Homo sapiens: one gene and its partners. The protein of the gene in region 1 purifies or fractionates together with the protein of each later gene. This does not show direct contact. Each region holds a gene or a part of one and is shown in the gene's direction. Other genes may lie near its edges.

Region 1 (3,500 bases):
GTTGTCTTAACCTTGATAGCAGTTAATGGACTTCTCAGACACACCTTATGAATAAGACTTTATTACATAATTATTTCTTACATTTATTTACCCGTGTTTATCTTTTTGAAAGTGTAGAGATATATCTTAGAAATAATCTAAAGTTAGGGAAATAATTTCTATAATGCCATGTACATATTTTGTGTAACTGTTGATTGATTCTTTGTATAGTCTGTTATATTGGACTCATGTTACATAAATTTAGCATGACTTACAACCACATGGAACCTTAGAAAACTTAAAAGACGAGAAATTATAAATGCTTAAAAATTGCTCACGCCTGTAATCCCAGCACTTTGGGAGGCTGAGACGGGCGGATCTTGAGGTCAGGAGATCGAGACCATCCTGGATAACACGGTGAAACCCCGTCTCTACTAAAAATACAAAAAAATTAGCCGGGCATGGTGGCAGGCGCCTGTAGTCCCAGCTACTCGGGAGGCTGAGGCAGGAGAATGGCGTGAACCTGGGAGGCAGAGCTTGCAGTGAGCCGAGATTGTACCGCTGCACTCCAGCCTGGGCGACAGAGCAAGACTCCGTCTCAAAAAAAAAAAAAAAAAAACTTAAAAATTTTGAATGTTATTGAGACTGTAGAATAAATTTTAGAACTCAAGAGGCTATATGGTTTCCTTGTGTACTTTTGTTTTCTTAGAAGATTTAAATAAATTCATAAACTCTGAAATAGATGTTTATTTAAAATACAATTTTGAAAAATTAATTATATTAAAACAATATATGGGCTGGGTGCTGTGGCTTACGCCTGTAATCCTAGCACTTCGGGAGGCTGAGGAGGGCGGATCTCTTGAGCCCAGGAATTCTATACCAGCCTGGGCAAAATGACGAAAACCCTTTCTCTACAAAAAAATACAAAAATTAGCTGGGCATGGTGGCATGTGGCTATAGTCTTAGCTATTTAGGAGCCTGAAGTGGGAGGATTGCCTGAGCCTAGGGAGGTTGAGGCTACAGTGAGCTGAGATTGCGCCACTGCACTGCAGCGCAGCCTCAGCCACAGAGTGAGACCCTGTTTTAAAAAACAAAAAACAGATGGTAGTGAGGTTTTAAGTTACTGAGTATTTCTCCTTTAAATATCTCAGTTGTATAATTTTAAATCAGAAAACACTAAAATGAAGCCTAAATTCATAGTTTTAATAACTTATATTTAATCTGAGCTTATAGGCATTATAGTTAACGTTGGCAAAGTTTTGAAAATTTTCACAAGCTGAGTTTAGAAAGGGCAAAATCATAGATTCATATTTAATTTTTAATTGTAATTGTTTATTTTGTTGGTTGTGCAAAACTTAGTAAATTAGAAAGACAGACAATTTAAAAATACTTGGGATCCATTAAGTTGATTCTTAAACATTCCAGTGTTTGGTTTCTTGAACCCTTCTTGGTTTTTTTTAAATTTGCATATTTGTGAAGTAGTAGGAATGATACTATTGCCAGATACGGTTTAAGGCAAATCCCAGACTTAGTATAATTTAATCTGTAACTGTTTCAATGTATGTCTTTCAGACATGCAGGAGACAATATAATATATCCTTTTTTTCTTATTTAGTAATGCTACAGCCCTTTGACTATGATCCGAATGAAAAGAGTAAACACAAGTTTATGGTACAGACAATTTTTGCTCCACCAAACACTTCAGATATGGAAGCTGTGGTAAGTATAGAAGAAGAATTTGTTTTGGGAAGTGGAGTTTAAACTGTGGGTGTTGTTTAGCAGTCAGTAGAAAAACTTAATTTCTAAAAACTAAAAGTTAAATTTAGGTTTTTAAAAAACTGCCAATTTCTTCATTATAGATAATCCTAACTTAAAGAATGAAAGAATTTTTAAATAGTATTTTTTTTTAGAAACAATTTAGAAATGCTGCTACTGGCCTGGTGCAGTGGCTCACACCTGTAATCCCAGCCCTTTGGGAGGCCAAGATGGGAGTATCTCAAGCCCAGGAGTTCGAGACCAGCTCAGGCGACATGACAAGACCCTGTCTCTACAAAAACAAACAAACAAACAAACAAAAAACAAAAAAAACCACCACAACAAAAATGAGCTGGGTATAGTGTTGGACGCCTGTAGTCCCAGCTACCCAGGAGGCATGGGAGGATTGATTGCTTGAGCCCAGGAGGGGCGACTGCACTCCAGCCTGGGAAACAGAATGAGACCAACTGGAAAAAAAGAAAGAAATGCTAAGAAGAAAGTCCTATGGTTGCTAGTAATATCATCGTGATTTTAATGGATGGTGATAGTAACTAGGATTATATAAAGGTTCTGTGACATTAGCCGATAACAATGGCAGGGTGATCAATAAAGAGTGCACCAGTGTGTTTCAGCCAAGCCAGGCAGCTTCACTCATCTTTTAGCTGTCCCGTGAGGTGAAACTTACTTACCATGATCATACCTCCTATGTCTCATGTTTGGTTTTGTTTATTTTTAGTGGAAAGAGGCAAAACCTGATGAATTAATGGATTCCAAATTGAGATGCGTATTTGAAATGCCCAATGAAAATGATAAATTGGTAAGTAGGAGAATGTAAAAAAAATTGGGAGCTGTTGAGCTCTCAGTTCCTTTGATTAATTTTGCTTTTATTTTTGACCTTTGAGGTATGTGTGATATGGCTATTACACTTCATAAGACTCAGTGGTTAAGTTTTAAAAAACTTGGTATGCCTTTTTTTTTTTTTTTTTTAAAGTAACATTTTGTTTATCCAAGAAGAAAGAAAGACTCACTTTTAGGTCAAGACTGCATCCTGGAGAAGAATCATTTAAGTCTACCAGATTTTTTGTGACGTAAACCACTGCAGGTTCTTTTTTAGAATGAGATGTGTATACATAATTTAAAAATACATATAAATTGCTTTTTGGCCACTATGTACCGGCAGTTTGGGGATAAATTCACTTACATGGACAGTTTATTCCAGGTTTAGTTATTCCTAGGTATTTTGCTCACTTTTGTTTTTAGTCAAATCCATCTGATTGTATTCTTTAGTAAATAATTATTATGTTGCTTACTCATTAGTGTAAGTCTAATACAATTTGGGGGACTGAGGGATGTATTTGTTTATTCAAAAACAAACAAAAAATAGTCTGTGAATGTACCGAGTGGGTTGTAGTCACTTACCTTGTCCATTTCCCTGTCTGGATTGCAAATTTGAATCTTTTCCTATGGTGAGAGAGACTTGAAAGATAAATTTTTCTGTGTGTGTATGTGACTTAATACATACAATAATATGGATAAATAGAATGGTGTGGCACAATTTGGTTACAATCTGACATGACTACTGCCTTAATCTAGTGGCCATTTGCTCTATTGAAAAGTAAACATGCAGATTAAATATGTGGGCTCAGTTATTGTGTTCCTCTTTCAGGATAAGCAGAAATGAAAAGGTCTCTGGTAATTAGGTGTTGACCAAATTATATTTTGAATTTTTAAAATGCCTCTTTTAAGTGATTTTTGAGGTATTTGCC
Region 2 (3,500 bases), on another chromosome or scaffold:
TGAGACCCCATCACCAAAAAAAAAAAAAAAGAAAGAAAGAAAGAAAAATTCTTATGTTGCCAAAAACAAAACAAGCTTAGTGGTAGGACTGATTTAGTTTAAAGGAGATTTCTCAATCCTAGTACTATTGACATTCTTTGTTACACGGGGGAGAGTAGGCTGTGCGTTATAGGATATTTAGCAGCATCCCTGGTCTCTACACACTAAATACTGGTAGCATCCTGATCCTCCCACCAGTTTTGACAACCAAAATGTCTCCAGATAATGCTAGATGTCCCCTGCAAGGTCAGATTGCCGCAGGTTGAGAACCGCTGATTTGAGAGCAGAATTTGAATGATGAAGTAATTCTCTGTTGACATGGTGTTAGAGTTCCAAAAATGACTGGTTTTGGGGGCCACTAACTGATGTTACTCTTTATCCAAGTGTTACATGTATCCCAGAGGAAGGTATGATATAGGATAGTGTTTCCCATAGCATGTTCCTGAAAGGTCTAGCACCTCCCGTAAACACGCCCCCCCAAAAAAAGTCTGTGGTTAAATATGTTGAAAAGTGCTACCTACTTTATCCTGTTTGGAGATTCAAAATGCAGGTTAACTGAGAATCATGTTTAACTTTTTGTAACCCAGAATTTCTCAAACTTATTTGATCACAGAACCTTCTTCCATGCAATACACACTCAAACACTTTATCTATTGACATCCATATCTTGCAAAACAGCAGTTTAAGGATATGATAATTAGAATTTTATTTCTCCAAAGTGAATAGTGAGGTTTCTTATTGTTGTTACTGCTTTCAGTGCATAAAATAATGCTTGCTTAAAGAATAAAAATTTTTAAATGAAATCTTTTTTTTTTTTTTTTTTTTTTTTTTTTTGAGACGGAGTCTCACTCTGTTGCCAGGCTGGAGTACAGTGGTGCGATCTTGGCTCACTGCAACCTCCACCTCCTGGGTTCAAGCGATTCTCCTGCCTCAGCCTCCCGAGTAGCTGGGACTACAGCCGCGCACCACCATGCCCAGCTAATTTTTATATTTTTACTAGAGACGAGGTTTCACCATATTGGCCAGGATAGTGTCGATCTCTTGACCTTGTGATCCACTGCCTTGGCCTCCCCCAAAGTGCTAGGATTATAGGCGTGAGCCACCGCACCTGGCCCTGAAATCTACATTTTTAAACTATTCTAATAGACTTACTGATTTGATTTGCTAATGAGTTTTTTCTTGATGTGGTAAAATGAAAACTTTCTCTGTTGCCACCTCTTTAGGATGACAGGTATTTTCTAAGTGGGTCTTTGGATGGAAAGCTCCGCCTTTGGAACATACCTGACAAAAAAGTGGCTTTGTGGAATGAAGTAGATGGTCAGACAAAATTGATCACAGCTGCAAATTTCTGTCAGAATGGCAAATATGCAGTGATTGGGACATATGATGGCAGATGTATTTTCTATGATACAGAGGTAAATGATTGTTTTTTGTAAATTATATAATTGTATACTTAGTAAACACTTTCATGGTTTTGGACAAGTTGCTTATCCCCTCTGGGCTTTAACTGCATTTTCTCTAAATAGAGACAAATAATACCATGTCTGTCTTAAGAGTTGGAACAGATGACTTTTGAGATGTCTTCTAATTCTAATTTAAAAAAAATTTTTTTTTGAGATGGAGTCTCACTCTGTTGCCCAGGATGGAGTGCAGTGGAGCGATCTCGGCTCACTACAACCTCTACCTCCTGGATTCAAGTGATTCTTGTGCCTCAGCCTCCTGAGTAGCTGGGACTATAGGCACGTGCCACCACACTCAGCTAATTTTTGTATTTTTTGGTAGAGATGGGATTTCAACGTGTTGGCCAGGCTGGTCTCGAACTCCTGACTTCAAGTGATTAACCTGCCTCAGCCTACCAAAGTGCTGGGATTATAGGCGTGAGCCACCACGCCCAAGCAAAAAGAATTTTTTTATAGAGACAAAGTCTCATTCTGTCACCCAAGTTAGAGCGTAGTGGTGCAATTGTTGCTCACTACAGCCTCGAACTCTTGGGCTCAAGCAGTCCTCCTGCCTCAGCCTCCTGAGTAGCTAGAGTTACAGATACGAGCCACCACACATGCTCCTAATTCTAATATGTTAAATGTATGGTTTATTTTTAGCATTTGAAATACCATACACAAATACATGTCCGATCTACTAGAGGGCGCAACAAGGTTGGAAGAAAAATTACTGGCATTGAGCCTTTACCTGGAGAAAATAAGGTACTACAGTATTCAAAACCATCTCTCTCCATACTATATGTAGATTCTTGAAAGTTCTTAATATCTTGGCAAAAAAATGTATTCTCTTTGTTGTGGAATACCGCTTTTCTTCTAGTTTTGAGGTATATTAGTTTGTATGTGTGTAACACCCTTTTTGGGTTGTAGCTTAGCTTGTACTAAAAGATGATATTTTTAACTTTTCATTTGATCTACTTTTAGATATTGGTAACCTCAAATGACTCCAGAATCAGACTATATGATTTGAGAGATTTGTCACTATCCATGAAGTATAAGGGTTACGTCAATAGCAGCAGCCAGATCAAAGCAAGTTTCAGGTAAATTGGCAATGAGATGTTCCCAAAAGAGATCAGGACATTTCTCCCCTAGTTCCATTTTTCCATTGGTCTATGCCTTATGTTTAATGGGGTTCTTTTCACTTTTGCAAGTAGTAGTTTATTATCATGCAATACGTACCTTGTCCACCTATATAGTATATAGAATTCGAATTGACCCTGTTCTGCAAATGAAGAAACCAAGACTCAGAAAATTAAGTGATTGGCCTAAAGTCATGGTTGTAGAGCCAAGATTATGAAGACTCTCATCTCTAGAGTTTTTGCTTTTGTACCTTTGTTTACGCTTTTAAGAGGGGGCTTACGGCTCATCCCGCCACTCCCCTCCCTGCCCCATTGTCTTGAACCTTTTAGGAAAGGAAGGAACCTTTTAGGATTCTAAGAAAGCATTTTAACACCCCACAGCACAGGGTCTTGTATTCAAAACTTTACATATCATTATTATTTAAATTTCTAATTTGGGTTCTGGACACTCTCCTGAAATAGGGTTAGCTACCTTTTCTTCTTTCTAGCCCTCTTCTTTTGCCGTTTTCTTACCAGTTCTTTTTTCTTGAATTATACATTAATTAATTCAATTGGTAAAGTATTCTGCTCCTGTCTTTCACACCTTAAATCATCATTCCTCCCAACGTGGATTAACTAACATCACAGTTACTTAGAGCTTTGATGCAAATACAAGTGCCAGGCCACTACATCACACGTACACATTTAGAACATCTAGAGTGAGACCATGGGTCTACATATTCAACAAGACCCTTCAAGTGTTATTTTAGGTATCACAAAGTAGGAAGCACTGATAAAGGAAACCTTTAAACATATACACACACACATTTTATTTGCTTTTCCTTTCTCCCCAAAATTCAGCCATGATTTTACTTACCTCGTTAGTGGTTCAGAAGATAAGTATGTT
Region 3 (3,500 bases), on another chromosome or scaffold:
GAGTTTCTGTCTTCAACTCTGACTTCTACCCTGTAGTCTAGTGTCCTGTATCCCACTGCAAAGTTCTTTCTTCTTGGATGTCTGGTAGGCACCTCAGATTTAACGTGCCCAGCCCCCACACACACACAAAACTTGCAGTTAGTTTTTTCCATTCTAATAAATGACATTACCATCTGTCCCCTTGCTTAAGTTAAACCTTTGGAGTCATCCCTGATTGTTCTTTCGTGTCACATGGCTAATTGATTAATTAGCAAGTTCCATGGGCTCAAATTTAAAGACATATTTAATGTAATCCGGCTGCTGTTTTCCATCTCTACTACTTCCAGCTTAGACCAAGCCAACATCTTCTCTCATCTGGACCACTGCATTAGCTTTCCAGCTGATCTCACAGCTTTCAGTCTTGCCCCACCCGCCAACACTACAGCCAAAGCAGTCCTTCAAAAATGTAAATCAGAGTATGTCTGAAGCTTGCTTGAAAACTTTCCAGTGGCTTCTCATCACACTGAGGAAAAAGTCCAAACTCCTTTCCCTGGCCAGGAAGGTCCTCCATGGCCCTACATTTCAGCCTCTGATCCCCAGCCTGATAACTCACATGCCAGAGTTATTCTTGTTGGTCCCTCTTCCTGGCACGCTCCTCCTTAGCCTTTCACATGGCTGGCCTCTCTCACATAGTCCCTCTTCATATTCTGAGACCACTTTCTGAAGTTACCTCATTTCTCGCTTCACTTGTATTTCCATGACCTTGTTTTATTTTTCATTATAGTACTATGGCTATTGAAATTATATACCTGTCTGTTCTTGCCTACTAGAATAGCATAAGGCTTCATGAGAACAAGGACTGTGTCTGTCTTGTTTCCCACTATAGCCCAGAGACATACTACATTGGACGTATATATTAAGTACTAAATAAATGTTCACAGAAAGCATGAATTTAAAAATTAAGGATAGATTATGAGAAAAGAAAAAAGTTCTAGAGCCAAGACATTGCTTTTTTTTTTTTTTTTTTTTTTTTTTTTTTTTTTTTGGGACAGAGTATTATCTCTCTGTTGCCCGGGCTGGAGTACAGTGATGCAATCGCCACTCACTGCACGCAACCTCCGCCTCCTGGGTTCAAGTGATTCTTATGCCTAAACCACCCAAATAGCTGGGATTATAGACCCACACTGCCACGCCCAGCTAATTTTTGTATTTTTAGTAGTGATGGGGTTTCGCCATGTTGGCTAGGCTGACGGTCTCAAAGTCCTGACCCCAATTGACCTGCCTGCCTCGGCCTCCCAAAGTGCTGGGATTATGGGCCTGAGCCACCACACCCGGCCAGCACTGCTTTCTAATAGAAAAAGAAACAACTTGGAAGAAATTAGAAGAAATGCAGTATGTTGAACCAAAACATAGCAAAGGATTATTAGAAGGGCAGCTGATGCTGGATAAAGGAAAAGATATTATGCATCAACCACCTCATAGTGCTGGAGCAGTAGTTTGAGGGTTGAAGGAACAGTGAGGATTTAACTAGAAATATAATCTTAGTACTCAAGACCTAGAAAAAAGAGAATGATAGTCTGCCACCAGATTGGTTTCCCTTAACTCTTTAATTTGTATCTTCAAATTCTCTCTCACCTAGCCTGGCCAACATAATGAAACCCCATCTCTACTAAAAATACAAAAATTAGCCGGGCATGGTGGCGCATGCCTGTAATCCCAGCTACGTGGGAGGCTGAGGTAGGAGAATCGCTTGAACCTGGGAGGAGGTGGTTGTAGTGAGCCAAGATCACACCACTGCACTCCAGCCTGGGTGACAGAGCGAGACTCCGTCTAAAAAAAAAAAATTCTCTCTCACTCTTTCACTGCGCACTTGAACTCTGTTCTGGCCTGTCCTGGACTGGGTAAATGACAAGTAGGCAAAAACCAGGACTTGGAGTATAGACCAGGATATGGCAAACTACAGCCACAAGCCAAATCCAGCCTGCCACCTGTTTTTGATAGCCTAAAAGCTAAGAATGGTTTTTACAGTTTTAAATCATTGGAAAGCAAAATATTTCATGATAATGTGAAAATTATGTGAACTTAAATTTTAGTGTCCATAAATAGTTTATTGGAACACACCTATCCTTTTTTGTTTACATATTATCTGTGCCTGCTCTCGTGCTACAATAGTATCATTGAGGAGCTGCGACACAGATGGTCTGTCTGACCCACAAAGCCTACAATCTTTACTATCTTGCTCTTTATAGAAAAAGTTTTCCAGCATCAGGTATACACTTGGCAAATGACTCTTCCTTTCGTATCCTTGGAGGATGATTGATGAAGGAATCTGATATAGCCAAAGATATGTAGGCCATTTTTCTTTGTGATAAAAATTATTTCTTCTCTTTTTACAGCAATTCAATTAAACCCCAGCTATATCAGGGCAATATTGAGGAGAGCAGAGTTGTATGAGAAGACGGACAAGCTAGATGAAGCCCTGGAAGACTATAAATCTATATTAGAAAAAGATCCATCAATACATCAAGCAAGAGAAGCTTGTATGGTAAAACCTAAAATTTTAAAAATATTTTTCCTTCTATTCTTTGTGTTGCTACCCAGTGAGTCCTAAATAATCCTTTCAGACACAATTAAATTCCATTTCTGTGCTTTTGAGGAGCTTATCAAGATATATGGGAGGCCAGGCGCAGTGGCTCTTGCCTGTAATCCCAGCACTTTAGGAGGCCAAGGAGGAGAGATCACTTGAGGCCAGGAGCTCGAGACCAGCCTGGCCAACACAACAAAACCCCATCTCTTCTAAAAATACAAAAAATTAGCCGGGTGTGGTCGTACACATCTGTAATCCTAGCTACTCGGGAGGCAGGAGAATTGCTTGAACCCAGAAGGCAGAGGTTGCAGTGAGCTGAGATCATGCCACTACACTGCAGCCTGGGCAACAGAGAGGATCATTGAGCCCAGGAGTTGGAGGCTGCAGTGAGCTGTGACTACATCACTGCATTCCATCATGGGCAACAGAGTAAGACTTTGTATCTTAAAAACAAACCAACAGGCTGGGTGCAGTGGCTCACGCCTGTACTCCCAGCACTTTGGGAGGCCGAGGAGGGCGGATCACCTGAGGTCGGGAGTTCGAGACCAGCCTGACCAACATGGAGAAACCCTGTCTCTACTAAAAATACAAAATTAGCTGGGTGTGGTGGCACATGCCTGTAATCCCAGCTACTCGAGAGGCTGAGGCAGGAGAATCGCTTGAACCCAGGAGGTGGAGGTTGCAGTGAGCTGAGATTGCGCCACTGCACTCCAGTCTGGGCGACAGTGTGAGACTCTGTCTTAAAAAAACAAAAAATACAAATGAATTTAAAAAAAAGTTAAAAATACAAATATAGCACTGTAAACATCTGATATGTATCCTTTCAAACTTTTTTCTGTATATATTTATTTGTTAAATTTGTATTGATGCCCTCCTTTAGTGTAGACTTTCTATTAAGAACTGGAAACAGAGCCAAACAAAACTTTTTTTTTTT
Region 4 (4,156 bases), on another chromosome or scaffold:
TACAACCTTCCTGCTCATCAACTGCAGAAGTGTTGGGGTGGTGGAGGTGGGAGTGAGGCCTTGGACTCCCTTCCTGAACTCTCCAGCCTCTGTGCATTGGTAAGAACACAGGGAGAAGCTGAGGCGGCTCAGAGAAGGTCTTACAGGGGATCCACAGTAGCAGAGGGGCTATAAATGGGTCTTCAGGACCCTCAAGGCAGGGCTCCCCCGCTGGGATCACCTCCCCTCTCTGGCCCTGGGGCAGGAGGAGGATGCAAATATGTGTGCCTGTTCCCCAGGGGCCACTATGTTCAGTAGCATAAAGCCCTTGGGGGGCTATATGGCAGAGTGTAGGACTTCATGCTTGAGGGGTCAGTGATGGGGACCACAAGGATGCTGGGCCTAGGAGGCTAGTCATTGCCCAGGGCAGTGGACTCAGAGGCAAGGAGTCCTGATGGGCCATGAATGGTGGAGAAGGCCTTGGAGGGGGGGGGTTTGAGGGCACAAGGCCTAGAGATGTCACCAGCCTACGGAAGCAGCATCCTTACGGGACCCAAACCAGCCCCATCCAGATCCAGAGCAAGTATGGGGGATGGGAGGAAGGGCTGGGCCTGGTGCCGGGCAGACTGGCTGCGGCACGCGATGGGGTGGGGGCTGTTTGTTGGGCCAGATTTAATGGGCTTTGCTGTCCCACCCTCAAAGCCTGCCTTCAGATGTGGTCTCCACGCTCCCCATAACCAGGGTCCCAACCCCAGGGGACGCTCAGCAGAGAGCTGGGCCTGACCCCAGCCCACAGCGGCCCTCTTGGCCCCTCCCTGCCCTAGGGTTCAGGTCGGGTGCTGCCCGCCACGCAGAAGCAGTCCGGGGACCCCTCCCAGAGGGGATCAGGGCTTAGGACTGAGAACTGGGTATCTGCTCAGGAAAGCCCTGAGTTTGGGTCAGTCAGTGCCCTATCCCTGCCTGGGGGCTCCCAGCCCAGTACCCTAGACCTGTTTCCACAACTGGACAGCTGGGTATCTATACAGCCGCACGGACTTCCCGCCACGCCGGCGAAACTGGGCACAGCCAGGGTTGATCCAGGATCACCAACAGACCCTGGGGGCACAGGGGGGTGCCAAGGCTGTTGACCCGCTGTGTGACCTCAGGGAGAACACTGTCCCTCTCTGGGATGGGTGTTCCAGGAGCTCTTGGGCTTAGGCCTCTGATATTTTCGGAATTCGGGCACCAGGGGACCGTGGGCAGTGCGTCCGCCCCAGGTCTGTCTGTCTGTCGAGGGGTGAATCAGCTTCCGGCCCCGCCCCGGGCGGCACGTGACCGCAGGTGGCGGCGGCGGGGTAAGCGGGGCGGCCCTGAGTCACCGGCGCGCCCCCGCCCAGCCTCGCGCCGCCGCCGCAGCCGCCGCGTGTGCGCCCCGCTCCGCCAGCGCCCGCTCGGTAAGCAAGTCCCGGCCGCGCCCCCCGGATCCCGGGTCTCGCGGGGCGTCGCCGCCCCGCAACCGCGTTTCTGGGTCTCCTGGACCCCTCCCAGAGCCCCAGCCTCCTCCGGGCAGGCCTCCTGGGTTGCCGGCACCCGGAAATTTTAAGACCCCTCCCTTACCCGGAAGCCCTCGGTTTGCGGGGCGCCTCTGTGCCGGGGCCGCCTCCCACTCTAAGAAGCTACTGGGAAGTTCCCCGGCTGCCCTAGTTTCCCTCAGAAGTTGCGAGGACTTCAGGCAGCTCCGGAAATCTGGGATATGGGTTCCCTGCACGTAGAGGCACGCTGAGCCCTGGGACGTGGCCCACCGCTCCCTCACCGCTGTTCCGATCCCTTACTTTCTTCCCATCCCAGTCCAGTGCCCCCACCTCATCTTCCCAGCCCCAGCCCCAGCCCCGTCCTTCCCACGCCCACCTGAGTTCCCGGCCCCGCCCCCGCCGCCCCTCCCCGCGCGGCCCGCCCTCCCCGCCGAGCCGGGCTCATCAGGTCTTTCCCGCAGATTGCTCATGGGCAGAGAAGCAGAGGCCGCGGAGAGGCCCCCGAGCGCGCGGTGCCCCAGCTGGGCCGGAGCTAGGAGCTGGACCTTGCCCACCCACCCCCGGCAGCAGTGCCCGGGCAGGCGGCGCCATGGCCTTCTCTCAGGTGCAGTGTCTGGACGACAACCATGTGAACTGGCGCTCCAGCGAGTCCAAGCCTGAGTTCTTCTACAGCGAGGAGCAGCGGCTGGCGCTGGAGGCCCTGGTGGCCCGCGGCCGGGACGCCTTCTACGAGGTGCTCAAGCGGGAGAACATCCGAGACTTCCTCTCGGAGCTGGAGCTCAAGCGCATCCTGGAGACCATCGAGGTGTACGACCCGGGCTCTGAGGACCCTCGGGGCACGGGCCCCTCTCAGGGGCCCGAGGACAATGGGGTCGGCGACGGCGAGGAAGCCAGCGGGGCGGATGGGGTCCCCATCGAGGCCGAGCCGCTGCCCTCCCTGGAGTACTGGCCCCAGAAGTCGGACCGCTCCATCCCGCAGCTGGACCTGGGCTGGCCCGACACCATCGCCTACCGCGGCGTGACCCGGGCTAGCGTCTACATGCAGCCCCCCATAGACGGGCAGGCCCACATCAAAGAGGTGGTGCGGAAGATGATCAGCCAGGCACAGAAGGTGAGGCAGCGCGGGGACTCCTGGAGCCATGGCCCAACCAGCCACCGGACCCCTCTCAATACAGGCTCACTCAGAGCCCAAAACGGGAGCCCAACATGGGCTTCTAGGGATCTCTGCTGTTTTCCCTGGCTGCCTCTTGGGTGGAGGTTTCCTCCCCACCTTCGTGGGGATCCGCAGTTTCTTTGCAGGGTAGGGTTCCCAGGTCCTAGCAGGTGACAGTGGGCTGCCCCGTCTCAAAGGGCCTCTTTATTGTTGGAGGGTGTTTCTGGTTCCCCAGAAGAAGGCACCGAGATAGGGTGGAGTGGGGAGGGGAGGAACCCCAGGGCTTCCTCTCACTCTCCCTTAGAGTGGCTCTGATTCACTGTAAAGGCGCGCACACACCATGAGCTCTCTGGTGGGGAGAGCTTTTGTTGTGGGGTGAGGGAATAGGCATGGTCCAAGTCCATCTGAGACTGGCCTGGAGGTCCTTGTTCAACACTGCCTGTTTCCTAGCTGTGCTGAGCAACTGGGAGCAGATTGCACACCCTCTCTGAGCCTCTTTGTGAGCTTTGCAATGGTGGAAACTTTCCAGGCCAGGATGCTTGGGTGAGGGAGGTGTGGTCCTCATCTGTGGAAGTGGAGTGAGTCCACCTGAGCATTGTCCACCTGAATTTTGCCACCGGAAGGGACCTCAAGCCTTCTCTGGCCCTCCCCTTCTCCACCCCTGTTGGGCTATGCAGTGCCCTAGCTGTGGGGGGCCATTCTTGGCTGACACACCGTCACACATTCTGAGAAGGGGTGCTTGCCATTTGCAGAGACAGCTAGGCCACTGCTGGACAGTTGTGACCATGAGCAGGTGCTAATGCCTGCTGCACGTAAGTACCTTCTCATCGTTTCCAAGCACATCTTAATTTGATAGATAAAGCTTACCTAGTGAGCTGTGTTGAGAAGGATTCTGAAGCCAGGTCTGGGCCTCAGGTTGTGGGATGAGGTGTTCCTAGCTGGGTCTAATCCCTTTATACTTCCAGTCCCAGAGCAGGGCAGCCAATTGCAGAAGACCAGAATGCTGGCTTCGGGGACCATCCTGGCTAACTGACAGGGCCTTGGGGAAGTTCGTGGGCAGAGAAACCAGACGTGGGTCAAGAACTGGTGAGGTGGCCCCTGGCCCTGGCCCCAGTTTCCAGGAAGGTGGAGTCCCTGCCCAACAAGGGGACCAGTTGGGTCAGCTAGCTGGGTGGGGGCGCCTGGCCCCTGGCCTGGCTGCTCTCAATTCACTGACTGACCCTGGGCAGCTTTGAGGCTTCGGGTTTCTGATCTATAAGATGGAGGTGGTGTGGATAAAAGCTGCATCTTTGGCTATTGTGAAGATGGAATATCGGGTGACAAAAGTAAGGAAGGAGTTAGAGGAAGAGGAGGAGGAGGGGGAGGAGGAAGGGACCTTCATAGTTTGCAGACTGAGAGACCCGCCCCACACCTGCTGTGGTGTGGAGGAAGTGCTGCTGATGTCTGTGCCTGATGGGGATGACTGGCTGGAGGCTAGAGAACCCAGTCCCCACAGAGAGCCTGCTGGGATCCC
Region 5 (3,500 bases), on another chromosome or scaffold:
AGTGCTCTTCTCCATCCAGGAGACCTTTGGATACTTGGGGAAGAAAATGAGCTTAAATTCCCACCCCTCCCCCTTTACCTTTTTCCTGTAAGGCCCTGGCCTTAGTTCTTAGCCCCACATCCTTGCTGGCTGCAGAATAGCAGCGGGTTCTGGGTAAGGAGCATTCTGCTAAAACGCTCCACCCTGCTCCCTCATCTGTCCTCTCCATTTGTCCCCATCAGATGGTTTAAGTGCTTAAGGGGACTCCAGGGCGGAGTCAGGGAGAACCCTGGCTCTCCTGGGCTAGGCACAAGATCATTCTACAGGAAACCTTGTGGGAATTCTTCTGGGACAAAGTATTGGTCAGCGCTGAGCTTAGCTGTGTCTGTGACACTCGCATTCTAACTAGGGCCTATCTGACGTCAACAGGAAGTAAGGCTGATGCAGTGGGGCCAAGGGAGTCTGGGAGAAGAAAGTCGGTTCAGAGCCCTGGCTGCCCTGTCCCACACTCCACCCTTCCGGCAAGAATCCAGTCCCTAGATGAGGTGGGGAGTGAGTGGTCGAGTTAAAAATCTCTGGGTCGGGTACGATGGTTCACGCCTGTAATCCCAGCACTTTGGGAGGTGAAGGCAGGCGGATCACTTGAGGTCAGGAGTTCAAGACCAACCTGGCCAATGTGGTGAAATCCCATCTCTACTAAAAATACAAAAATTAGCCGGGTGTTGTTGTGGCACGCGCCTGTAGTCCCAGCTACTCGGGAGTCTGAGGCAGGAGAATCGCTTGAACCCAGGAGGCAGAACTTGCAGTGAGCCAAGATCCAGCCACTGCACTACAGCCTGGGCGACAGAGTGAGGCTTCGTCTCAAAAAAAAAAAAAATCTTTGGGCCAAATCTCCAGACAGCACAGGCAGGTGCAGAAACCCACCAGGAAGCTGCCTGTGTACCTCTGGCAGATTGGAGCCTGGCCTAAAGCTGCCTTTTATGCAGCTTGGGTCAAGGTTAAACATCATGTCACAGTGATTTTTCTCACTATGTGTGAGACATGGAGAACTGGCTCCAAGTACTACTCTGTCCACTGGTGGCTGGACTACTGATGTGCACCACTCTCCACTCCTCTCACCCTGCAGTGGGTCATGGCCCCGTGCCGGGGCAGAGGAGAAAAATGGGCTGCCTTCTCCAGGACAAACCCTCACTCCAACTCAACTAGGGTGCTGTGATCAGAATGTGCAATTGAGGTGTGATTTTACTGATTTTTTTTTTTTTTGAGACCGAGTTTCGCTCTTGTTGCCCAGGCTGGAGTGCGATGGCACGATCTCAGTTCACTGCAACCTCCACCTCCCGAGTTTGAGCAATTCTCCTGCCTCAGCCTCCTAAGTAGCTGGGATTACAGGCATGTGCCACCACGCCTGGCTAATTTTGTATTTTTAGTAGAGACGGGGTTTCTCCATGTTGGTCAGGCTGGTCTCAAACTCCTGACCTCAGGTGATCCACCCGCCTCGGCCTCCCAAAGTGCTAGAATTACAGGCGTGAGCCAACGTGCCCAGCCTGTTTTTGTTTTTTGTGTTTTGAAGCAGGGTCTCACTCAGTTCCCCAGGCTGGAGTGCAGTGACACGATAATAGCTTACTGTAGCTGCAATCTCCCGGGCTCAAACGATCCTCCCACCTCAGCCTCCTGAACAGTTGGGACTACAGGCACACCACCACACCTGGCTAATTTTTTTTTTTCTTTTTTTAGTAGAGATGAGGTCTTGCTATGTTGCCCAAGCTGGTCTCAAACTCCTGAGGATCAAGTGATCCTCCTACCTTAGCCTCCCAAAATGCTGGGATTGCAGATGTGAGCCACCACACCCAGCCTGATTTTACTTTAAATGAGAGTCCCTCTTCAGAGTCCCTCAGCTGTTCCTGGCCCCTGGCCATGTGCCTTCAGTTGCCCCTGCTTCTGTGGTATCCTTAAGGCTACATTCAGTGCTGAGGCCCTAGGCAGGCAGCAGAGAGAAGCCAAATGATTCTGTCTTTCCCTTATCCACCCAGAGCATGCAAAACCAGGAGCAGTGGTGGGTTCAGGGTGGGCACCAGCTATGTATATGTACATCAGGGACAGGGGGCCAAAGGCAGTCAGTTTCCAAAGACTGCCCCAGAGGCCATTTTTCAGAGAAGCCCTGGGTTCCTCAAGGGCCCTGTGTCCATGCTGGCCCATCTTGCAGGACGAGCCTGTGGAGTGGGAGACACCTGACCTTTCTCAAGCTGAGATTGAGCAGAAGATCAAGGAGTACAATGCCCAGATCAACAGCAACCTCTTCATGAGCTTGGTGAGTTGACTGCTCAGGAAGGGGGCGTGGGGAGGAGCAGGTACCCAGCTATGTGCCTGATACTCAGAGGGTCACAACTGAGGTTATCTTGGGTGGGCGCAAGCAGTAATTTGTGCATACCCAGCCTAGCCCCAAGTAGACTGACATCTCACCTGGAACCTATTATCAAGGTTTGGTTTCTCTATTTCTTTAGAACAAGGACGGTTCTTACACAGGCTTCATCAAGGTTCAGCTGAAGCTGGTGCGCCCTGTCTCTGTGCCCTCCAGCAAGAAGCCACCCTCCTTGCAGGATGCCCGGCGGGGCCCAGGACGGGGCACAAGTGTCAGGCGCCGCACTTCCTTTTACCTGCCCAAGGATGCTGTCAAGCACCTGCATGTGCTGTCACGCACAAGGGCACGTGAAGTCATTGAGGCCCTGCTGCGAAAGTTCTTGGTGGTGGATGACCCCCGCAAGTTTGCACTCTTTGAGCGCGCTGAGCGTCACGGCCAAGGTGGGCTTCCCACCCCACCCTGCCCTATGTGAGGGTATATACGCATGCACCTGAGCATGCAGGGGCTGAGCAGCTGGCCCTGTCTCTGATCATTACTTCCCCTTCACAGTGTACTTGCGGAAGCTGTTGGATGATGAGCAGCCCCTGCGGCTGCGGCTCCTGGCAGGGCCCAGTGACAAGGCCCTGAGCTTTGTCCTGAAGGAAAATGACTCTGGGGAGGTGAACGTGAGTACATAGTTCTTAGTTTCTTGGTTGTCACTAGACAGGACTGATGGGCTGTAGCTACAGTAAGGCTTGGAGGAGGAATTGTGCTGGAAGACAAGCCCTGCAAAACAGTTCCAGGAGTGTATAGGCATTGTAACTAAAGCAAAGGCTTCCAGACCACTCATGCCAAAGCCTAGGGTTGTCCCAAGAAGCCAGGAAGAATTGCCTTGGTGCTTTGATCTTTCCTGGTGTGGAAAATCTTCTGGAGATGCAGGAGTCCATCTAATGACATGAGGAGGCCCCCTTCAGACTTTTTACCTGGAAGCTTTCTGGCTCCAAGGTATTAGGCCTGTGGAGTGAAATTAGACTCAGAATATGCCTGACCTGTCCACAGGTAATTGGGGAACATCTGACTTGGTTGTCTCAGTAAGGTGACCGTTTTGTAGGGCCCATCTTCCATACAAACTGCTGTCAGGGATCCTACCAGAGATCATTCAGCCAAGAGCCTGACATCAGAA
Region 6 (3,500 bases), on another chromosome or scaffold:
CTAAGGAAGAGTTGACAGCCTCTCTAGTTGGCCTACCAAAATCCTTAACAGATTCTTGCTTGTTTGAAAAATCTGGATATGAAGAAGATAATGAGTGTCACGTTACACCAGAATTGCCTAAGTCTCTTCAGCCTTCCTCACAAAATCACAGGTTTTACCACAGCACTGGCAGTTTAAATGGATATGGTTGTGGAGACAATGTTGTTCAAGCTGTAGAACAGTATGCCAAAAAAGTAGTGGATGACACTCTAGAGCTAACTCTAGGATCTACAGTGTTCCGAGTGTCTGAGACCACAAAATCAGCAGACAGGGTCACTTATGCAGAAAAGTTGTCACCTCTTACAGGTCAAGCTTGCAGATACTGTGACCTTAAAGAACTCCACAATTGCACTGGAAATTCATCTCAGCACTTTTTCAGACAGGGTTCTCTCGCCAGTAGTAAGCCAGCTTCTAATCCAAAATTTAGCAGCCGCTATCAGAAATCTAGGATTTTTCATCTCAGTGTCCCTCAGATTCATGTTAATCTTGATAAGAAGGCAGTGCTTGCTGAGAAGATAGTTGCTGAAGCCATTGAAAAAGCTGAGCGAGAGCTGAGCAGTACCAGCCTGGCAGCCGACAGTGGGATCGGACAGGAGGGTGCCAGCTTTGCTGAAAGCCTTGCCACAGAAACCATGACAGCAGCTGTCACAAATGTTGGGCATGCTGTTAGCAGGTAAGTTTCACGTTTCTTTTGGTTGTTAATGATAAATTAAAAAGATAAATGTGATCCTATATGTCTTAGGTCCTGTTCATAAAGGAATGATTATTTTTAACCCTACATAAACAAAAGTTTTCCCTGTTGCATTTATGTATTGTTTCATATCCTACACATGACTTTAATATATTTTGGTCTCCTGATCCCTTTTGAGGGAAGGTGTTATCCATTTACAGAGCTGGAAAATGAGGGTTGGAGAAAATAATCACCTTATCCAAGTTCATAGAGCTATGAAATAGGTAAAGTTGAATTAAATAAATAGCTAGAGAATTTTATATAGTAGTCCCCCCTTATTCTCAATTTTGCTTTCCTCAATCTGAAAATGTTAAATGGAAAATTCCAGAAATAAGCGATTCGTAAGTTTTAAGTTGCATGTTCTGAGTAGCATGATGAAGTCTCACACCATCTCACTCAGGATGTGAATTACCCCTTTATCCAGTTTATCCATACTACATGTGCTGTTCACCTGTTAGTCACTTAGAAGGTATCTCAGTTATCAGGTCCACAAACCTGGTATGTACAGGGCTTGATGCTATCTGCAGTTTCAGACATCCACTGGGTGTCTTAGATCATATCCCCCATGGATAAGGGGGGACTATTCTATAGTAAATGTAGAATATTACTATATTAATTTACTATTCTGAGATTAAATTTTTGTACACCTTTCTTCATTCACAAGGGTAAGTTTTCTTATAAAGACCATGGTTAAACTACTCTGAAGAAGAAAGTGAAAATTCTTTACATACTTACACCATTTCTCTTGATTGGTTCACAATCTAAGAGGACAGTTCTTTCTGGTAGTCCTACAGTGTCCTGTTTTTCAGTAGCTATCTCTTGTGCTCAGTGATTCTTTTTTTTTTTTTGAGATGGAGTCTCGCACTGTTGCCCAGGCTGGAGTGCAGTGGCACAATCTCAGCTCACTGCAACCTTTGCCTCCCGGGTTCAAGCGATTCCTGTGCCTCAGCCTCCCTAGTAGCTGGGATTACAGGCACCCACCACCACGCCCAGCTAATTTTTGTATTTTTAGTAGAGACAGGGTTTCACCAAGTTGGCCAGGCTGGTCTTGAACTCCTGACCTTAGGTGATCTGCCCACCTCAGCTTCCCAAAGTGCTGGGATCACAGGCGTGAGCCACCGCAACCAGCCATGCTCAGTGATTCTTTAATAACAACTTAGTTACAGTTTTTCAGTTTAAACCTTCTTTGTCCCTGAGAAGATATCAGGACCAACTTGTGTTATTAGTTGATAGGATGATATTTGTAAGTCCTGCTTGAAAGAGAAAATGCTTTAAGTTGAGGTGGAATTTAATTGAGTCACATGATATTCCAGATTTTTGAGTAGCTTCTGTTAAAGCCATGACATGGTCTGCCTCTTTTCTTATCCATCTTAAAATAGGGAGATATAGCTTGGCCAGGATTCTTGAATCCAATTGCTCCATAGCGTCTACTTGAGATGAGAGATGATGTAGGTTTCTGGTGAACTAGGAGAGGTCTCTATTTGCCCTAATCAGGCAGCCTTCTTTCTCCTAGACCAGGGGTTGGCAAACTACAGTCTGTGGGCCAATGTGGCCTACTGGTTGTTTTTGTATGGACTGCAAGCTAAGAACAGATTTCATGTTTTTTTTTAATGGTTGAAAAAAATCAAATGATATTTTGTGATGTGGAAATTATATGAAATTCAAATTTCAGTATTTATAAATAAAGTTTTATTGGGACACCACCATGCTCATTCAATTACACATTTCTGTGGCTGCCTTTGTGCTATAATGGCAGAGTTGAGTAGTTGGGACAGAGGCTGTATGACCAGCAGTGCCTATGTACTTCCTGTTTGGCCTGTATTAGTTCATTTTCACACTGCTATAAAGATACCACCTGAGACTGAGTAATTTATAAACAAAGGAGGTTTAATTGACTCACAGTTCTGCATGGCTGGGAAAGCCTCAGGAGACTTACAGTCATGGCACAAGGCAAAGGGGAAGCAAGTGTTTTCTTCACAAGGCAGCAGGAGAGAGAGAGAAGGGGGAGCTGCCAGACACTTTTAAAACCATCAGCTCTCATGAGAACTCCCTCACTGTCATGAGAACAGCATGGAGGAAGCCGCCCTCATGATCCAATCACCTCCCACCAGGTCCCTCCCTGGGGGTTACAATTTGAGATGAGATTTGGGTAGGGACATAGAGCCAAACCATATCATGGCCTCTTACAGAAAACAATTGCGAACCTCTGTCCTAGATCCACATTTTCGTTTTCACTACATACCAGTTCCTAGTATGATAATAAACATAATAAATTGTTAATAAATATTCTCATGAATAGGTAATAAATTAGGCCTTTTTACAATTGAAATAATTTTCCTCATACAGGTTGCTTCAGGCTATTTTACTTTTTACTCCTCCTCAGTTCAGTCCTGTCTGCCCTACGGACCCATCCATCCCCCTTTCCTCCCACCCTCATGGGAAGAAAAGAGACTGTCCTCTAAAGTTTTTAAGACATCACTCTCAGGGGCTAGCAAATGCCTTTGTTATTGATTTTCTCAGTAATTTCCACTTTTCCTTCTTAGAGTTGGGTGAGTAGATAGCCCCTAAAGTTCTTCCTGTAAGCCAGTGCTGTCCAATTTCAGCTTTTTATTAAGGCTGGAGTAATTATTTTCCTGCTTCTCTTCTTAATAATTGTGCTAGGGTTCTGTAAATACTGACTAAGGAAAGCTGACTCTAGTGTGTAGAGTTTACGTTTAACATTTTTTATTTC
Region 7 (3,500 bases), on another chromosome or scaffold:
AAATCTGTCTTAGATACTAATTTTTTAATATAAGCTTTTAATGTATTGTTAACAATTTGGTCACATTATATTACTGGGTTTTGTGTTTCTAAATTATTTTAGTAGTTATAACTGGATAACTTATTTTCTTTTTCTTCTGTATTATAGATCTTAGTGTTTTTGTATCGGTCAAAAATTTATCTGACTGAATAATTAGAAATAATTTAGGGAAGAATCACTTAAAATAACAGTGGCAAAAATACTGTAGAATGTCTTGATTGGCCATATAATGTTACTCGTTTTTCCTAAATGTTTAGTCATTTTTTACTGTTCCTTTAACTACAGATTACATTTTTTTGTTTGTTTGTTTTTACTGTCTTCACAAATGCTTCCAAATATGGCTGCTTCCAACCCTGAGTTTAACCCAGGAACAATACTGCAAACTGCTCAATTCAGTAGTGAGTGGGCTATATGCATACCTACTCATCAAAGCTATTATTTAAAGAATTATTATTTTTTTAGCACTCTTAGCATTTCAAGATAATGCATGCACTCAGTTCCCAAAGTGTATTATTGCTTCTTGAAACTCCTCTTTGATCTGCTGAAAGTAATGATGGCTACCATCTTAAACAGACCCTAAGGTTGAGAGTAAACATATAAATTTGAAAGCTGTTTATTGATATATTGATTATCAGTGGTCACTTACCTATCAGTGAACTTTGGTAGTGACACATACAGACTGGTATTTATAACGTGCAGGCAAAATAAGTACTGTGACCTTGAAAGATTTTTTTTTTTTTTTGAGACTTGCACTCAAAAGATTTTTTTTTTGAGTCTTGCACTGTCACCCAGGCTAGAGTGCAGTGGCAAGATCTCGGCTCAGCCTCCCAAGTAGCTGGGATTACAGGCACCCACTACCACACCCAGCTAATTTTTATGTTTTTAGTAGAGACAGGGTTTCGATATGTTTGCCAGGCTGGTCTCAAATTCCTGGCCTCAAGTGATCTGCCCACCTAGGCCTCCCAAAGTGCTGGGATTACAGACGTGAGCTACCACACCTGGCCTTGAAAGATTATTTTCTATTTCTGACCCATTATATACCACCCATACTGTAGTGCTTGTATTTTCTCTCACACATACTGTATTTTTTAACTTGAGAGAGTGTATTTGGTAGACTAGATGACAGTCTTTTTGAGACAGAGTTTTGCTCTTGTTGCCCAGGCTGAAGTGCAGTGGCGCAATCTTGGCTCACTGCAACCTCCGCCTCCTGGGTTCAAGGAATTCTCCTGCCTCATCCTCCCTAGTAGTTGGGAATACAGGCATGCGCCACCATGCCTGGCTAATTTTTTGTATTTTTAGTAGAGACAGGGTTTCACTGTGTTAGCCAGGATGGTCTGGATCTCCTGACCTCGTGATCCGCCCACCTCGGCCTCCCAAAGGGCTGGGATTACAGGCGTGAGCCACCACGCCCAGCCAGGTGACAGTCTTAAACTATTTGCTTAAATTACAGAATTATCTTTTCTTGATTTATCTTTGTTTTATTTGAAGGATCTTTAGAAGATAATGAATAGTATAATATTACTTTACCAGTTTACCATAATTTTAAATTGCTAATGTCTTTTGTTCCTCAGCTTCAGAATTTGAAATATAACTGCCCAGCTGTAACTATATAAGAAAATATGTAGATAAGAAATTTTCATTTTGAGTTTTTAGTATATCAAGCATGTGGTATTGTACCTAGGAAGTTTTATTGTTTTTTTGTTGTTGTTTTGTTCTTTTGCTTTTTTTTTTAAAAAAAACCAAAAAACCATTACTGGAAATAGGATTTGGTGAGGGCCAGAAAGATGTATGATGTGATATGCTTATTAAAAGTTACTACTACATGACGAGTCTGTTGGTGGCTCATGCCTGTAATCCCAGCATTTTGGGAGGCTGAGGCAGGAAGTTCACTTGAGCCCAGGAGTTCATAACCAGTCTGGGTGACATAGTGACACCCAATCTCTACAAAAGATAAAAAACTAGCCGGGCATGGTGGTGCACACTTGTGGTCCCAGCTACTCTGGAGGCTGAGGTAGGAAGATCACTTGAGCCTAGGAGCTCAAGGCTGCAGTGAGCCATAATTGCGTCCCGGCACTCTGCCTGGGCAACAGAGGGAGACCCTGTCTCAAAAAAAAAAAAAAAAAAAGAGTAAGATATAGCTAAAAGCACCCTACTATGTGCCAGCTCATTTCTGTTTGTTTGGTTTTGTATTTCAAAGCAAAAATCACTATACATGTGATTTCTGGTTTCTTTTTACTCAACCTTAACTATGTTATTGGTTTGATTTTAACCGAAGATTTTCCTGTGTGTAAATGTTCTTTGTTGCAGCATAACTACAAGTAGTCTCATTTTTAATGTGTTGCCAAATATTTACCATATGGATTATTTACTTTATAGATTGTTTATTTACCTTATAGATTATTATTTCCTTTGTAGATCATTATCTTATAGAGCCATTGGCACCAGAATTAGAGTTTTGGGGGGTTTTTTGGTCCTAGAACTTGTTAGTGAATTACAGTCACACATTTCTTAATGGCAGGGATATGTTCTAAGAAAAATATGTCATTAGGCAGTTTTGCCATTGTGTGAATGTCATAGAATGTATTTACACAAACCTAGATGGTATAGTATATACTACACATCTGGGCCATACAATGTAACCTCTTGCTCCTAGGCTACAAACTTGTATAGCATATTACCATACTCAACAATTGTAACACAATGGTAAGTATTTGTGTATCTAAACATAGAAAAGGTACAGTAAAAATATGGTATCATAATCTTACAGGACCGCTGTTGTTTATGCGGTCTTGTTGATGAAAACATCATTATGTAGTGCATGACTATAATGGAATACTTTTGTATTGATACCTAAAAAAAACTTTTGCATAAGTTACTGCCTGACAAAAATTCTTAGCTATCAATTCTAATTTCAGTCTTGACTTAGGCCTCCTGAAAGATTTCTCAGATTCAACTACAGAAGGCCCCATACAGTGTATGATTTGCAAAAGCCTATATAAAATACGCAATATCTGGTTGGATAACCTCTAAAACAAAAGTTTTTAACAGGAAAGGCAGCCCAAAGTTCCAGGGAGAAACATGCATTTGCAAAGCAAGGGCCACGCTTAGAAAATAAAAGTTTTTAAGGGTGAGAACTGCCATGAGAGAAAAAGCACAGAGTTTCTGGAAGATAACTGATAGAAAAAGGGCTGAACTGCCCTTTTTGTTTTGTTCATTTAATTTAAGAAATGGTACCAGAATGCCAAGATTATGTGTCCCTTCCTTCCAACAGCCATCTCTTCACTGTGCGCTGTTAGTAGCAAGAGGGCAAGGAGACATATGGTGATGACTCAGACTACCACTACTGGATAAGGTAGATAGTTCTTTAGTGGCAAGAGAGAGTTCTGGTACTCTTGGTAGATGTATCAAGTATTGGACTGGAACTCCTCTTTCAGGAGGACCCAGAAGCTGTATTTTCTTGC

The links.
Region 2: the proteins of VAPA (region 1) and WDR44 purify together in Homo sapiens (affinity purification with mass spectrometry; 4 studies listed by BioGRID and IntAct, with this or other methods). This does not show direct contact.
Region 3: the proteins of VAPA (region 1) and TTC1 purify together in Homo sapiens (affinity purification with mass spectrometry; 7 studies listed by BioGRID and IntAct, with this or other methods). This does not show direct contact.
Region 4: the proteins of VAPA (region 1) and FAM83G purify together in Homo sapiens (co-immunoprecipitation; 4 studies listed by BioGRID and IntAct, with this or other methods). This does not show direct contact.
Region 5: the proteins of VAPA (region 1) and RASSF1 purify together in Homo sapiens (co-immunoprecipitation; 4 studies listed by BioGRID and IntAct, with this or other methods). This does not show direct contact.
Region 6: the proteins of VAPA (region 1) and AKAP11 purify together in Homo sapiens (co-immunoprecipitation; 4 studies listed by BioGRID and IntAct, with this or other methods). This does not show direct contact.
Region 7: the proteins of VAPA (region 1) and PTPN12 purify together in Homo sapiens (affinity purification with mass spectrometry; 4 studies listed by BioGRID and IntAct, with this or other methods). This does not show direct contact.

What each region holds. Positions count from the first base shown.
Region 1 is NC_000018.10:9,934,516-9,938,015, forward strand, and holds part of VAPA (vesicle-associated membrane protein-associated protein A), read left to right. Parts: intron 1-1,594; coding exon 1,595-1,698; intron 1,699-2,470; coding exon 2,471-2,551; intron 2,552-3,500. UniProt on the Homo sapiens protein: Endoplasmic reticulum (ER)-anchored protein that mediates the formation of contact sites between the ER and endosomes via interaction with FFAT motif-containing proteins such as STARD3 or WDR44.
Region 2 is NC_000023.11:118,440,106-118,443,605, forward strand, and holds part of WDR44 (WD repeat-containing protein 44), read left to right. Parts: intron 1-1,262; coding exon 1,263-1,454; intron 1,455-2,138; coding exon 2,139-2,240; intron 2,241-2,459; coding exon 2,460-2,575; intron 2,576-3,454; coding exon 3,455-3,500. UniProt on the Homo sapiens protein: Downstream effector for Rab11 which regulates Rab11 intracellular membrane trafficking functions such as endocytic recycling, intracellular ciliogenesis and protein export.
Region 3 is NC_000005.10:160,047,139-160,050,638, forward strand, and holds part of TTC1 (tetratricopeptide repeat protein 1), read left to right. Parts: intron 1-2,375; coding exon 2,376-2,524; intron 2,525-3,500.
Region 4 is NC_000017.11:19,001,965-19,006,120, reverse strand, and holds the start of FAM83G (protein FAM83G), read left to right. Parts: upstream 1-1,356; 5' UTR 1,357-1,412; intron 1,413-1,951; 5' UTR 1,952-2,079; coding exon 2,080-2,601; intron 2,602-4,156. UniProt on the Homo sapiens protein: Substrate for type I BMP receptor kinase involved in regulation of some target genes of the BMP signaling pathway. Also regulates the expression of several non-BMP target genes, suggesting a role in other signaling pathways.
Region 5 is NC_000003.12:50,330,837-50,334,336, reverse strand, and holds part of RASSF1 (ras association domain-containing protein 1), read left to right. Parts: intron 1-2,182; coding exon 2,183-2,287; intron 2,288-2,480; coding exon 2,481-2,778; intron 2,779-2,887; coding exon 2,888-3,003; intron 3,004-3,500. UniProt on the Homo sapiens protein: Potential tumor suppressor. Required for death receptor-dependent apoptosis. Mediates activation of STK3/MST2 and STK4/MST1 during Fas-induced apoptosis by preventing their dephosphorylation.
Region 6 is NC_000013.11:42,303,152-42,306,651, forward strand, and holds part of AKAP11 (A-kinase anchor protein 11), read left to right. Parts: coding exon 1-712; intron 713-3,500. UniProt on the Homo sapiens protein: Binds to type II regulatory subunits of protein kinase A and anchors/targets them.
Region 7 is NC_000007.14:77,627,795-77,631,294, forward strand, and holds part of PTPN12 (tyrosine-protein phosphatase non-receptor type 12), read left to right. Parts: intron 1-3,500. UniProt on the Homo sapiens protein: Dephosphorylates a range of proteins, and thereby regulates cellular signaling cascades. Dephosphorylates cellular tyrosine kinases, such as ERBB2 and PTK2B/PYK2, and thereby regulates signaling via ERBB2 and PTK2B/PYK2.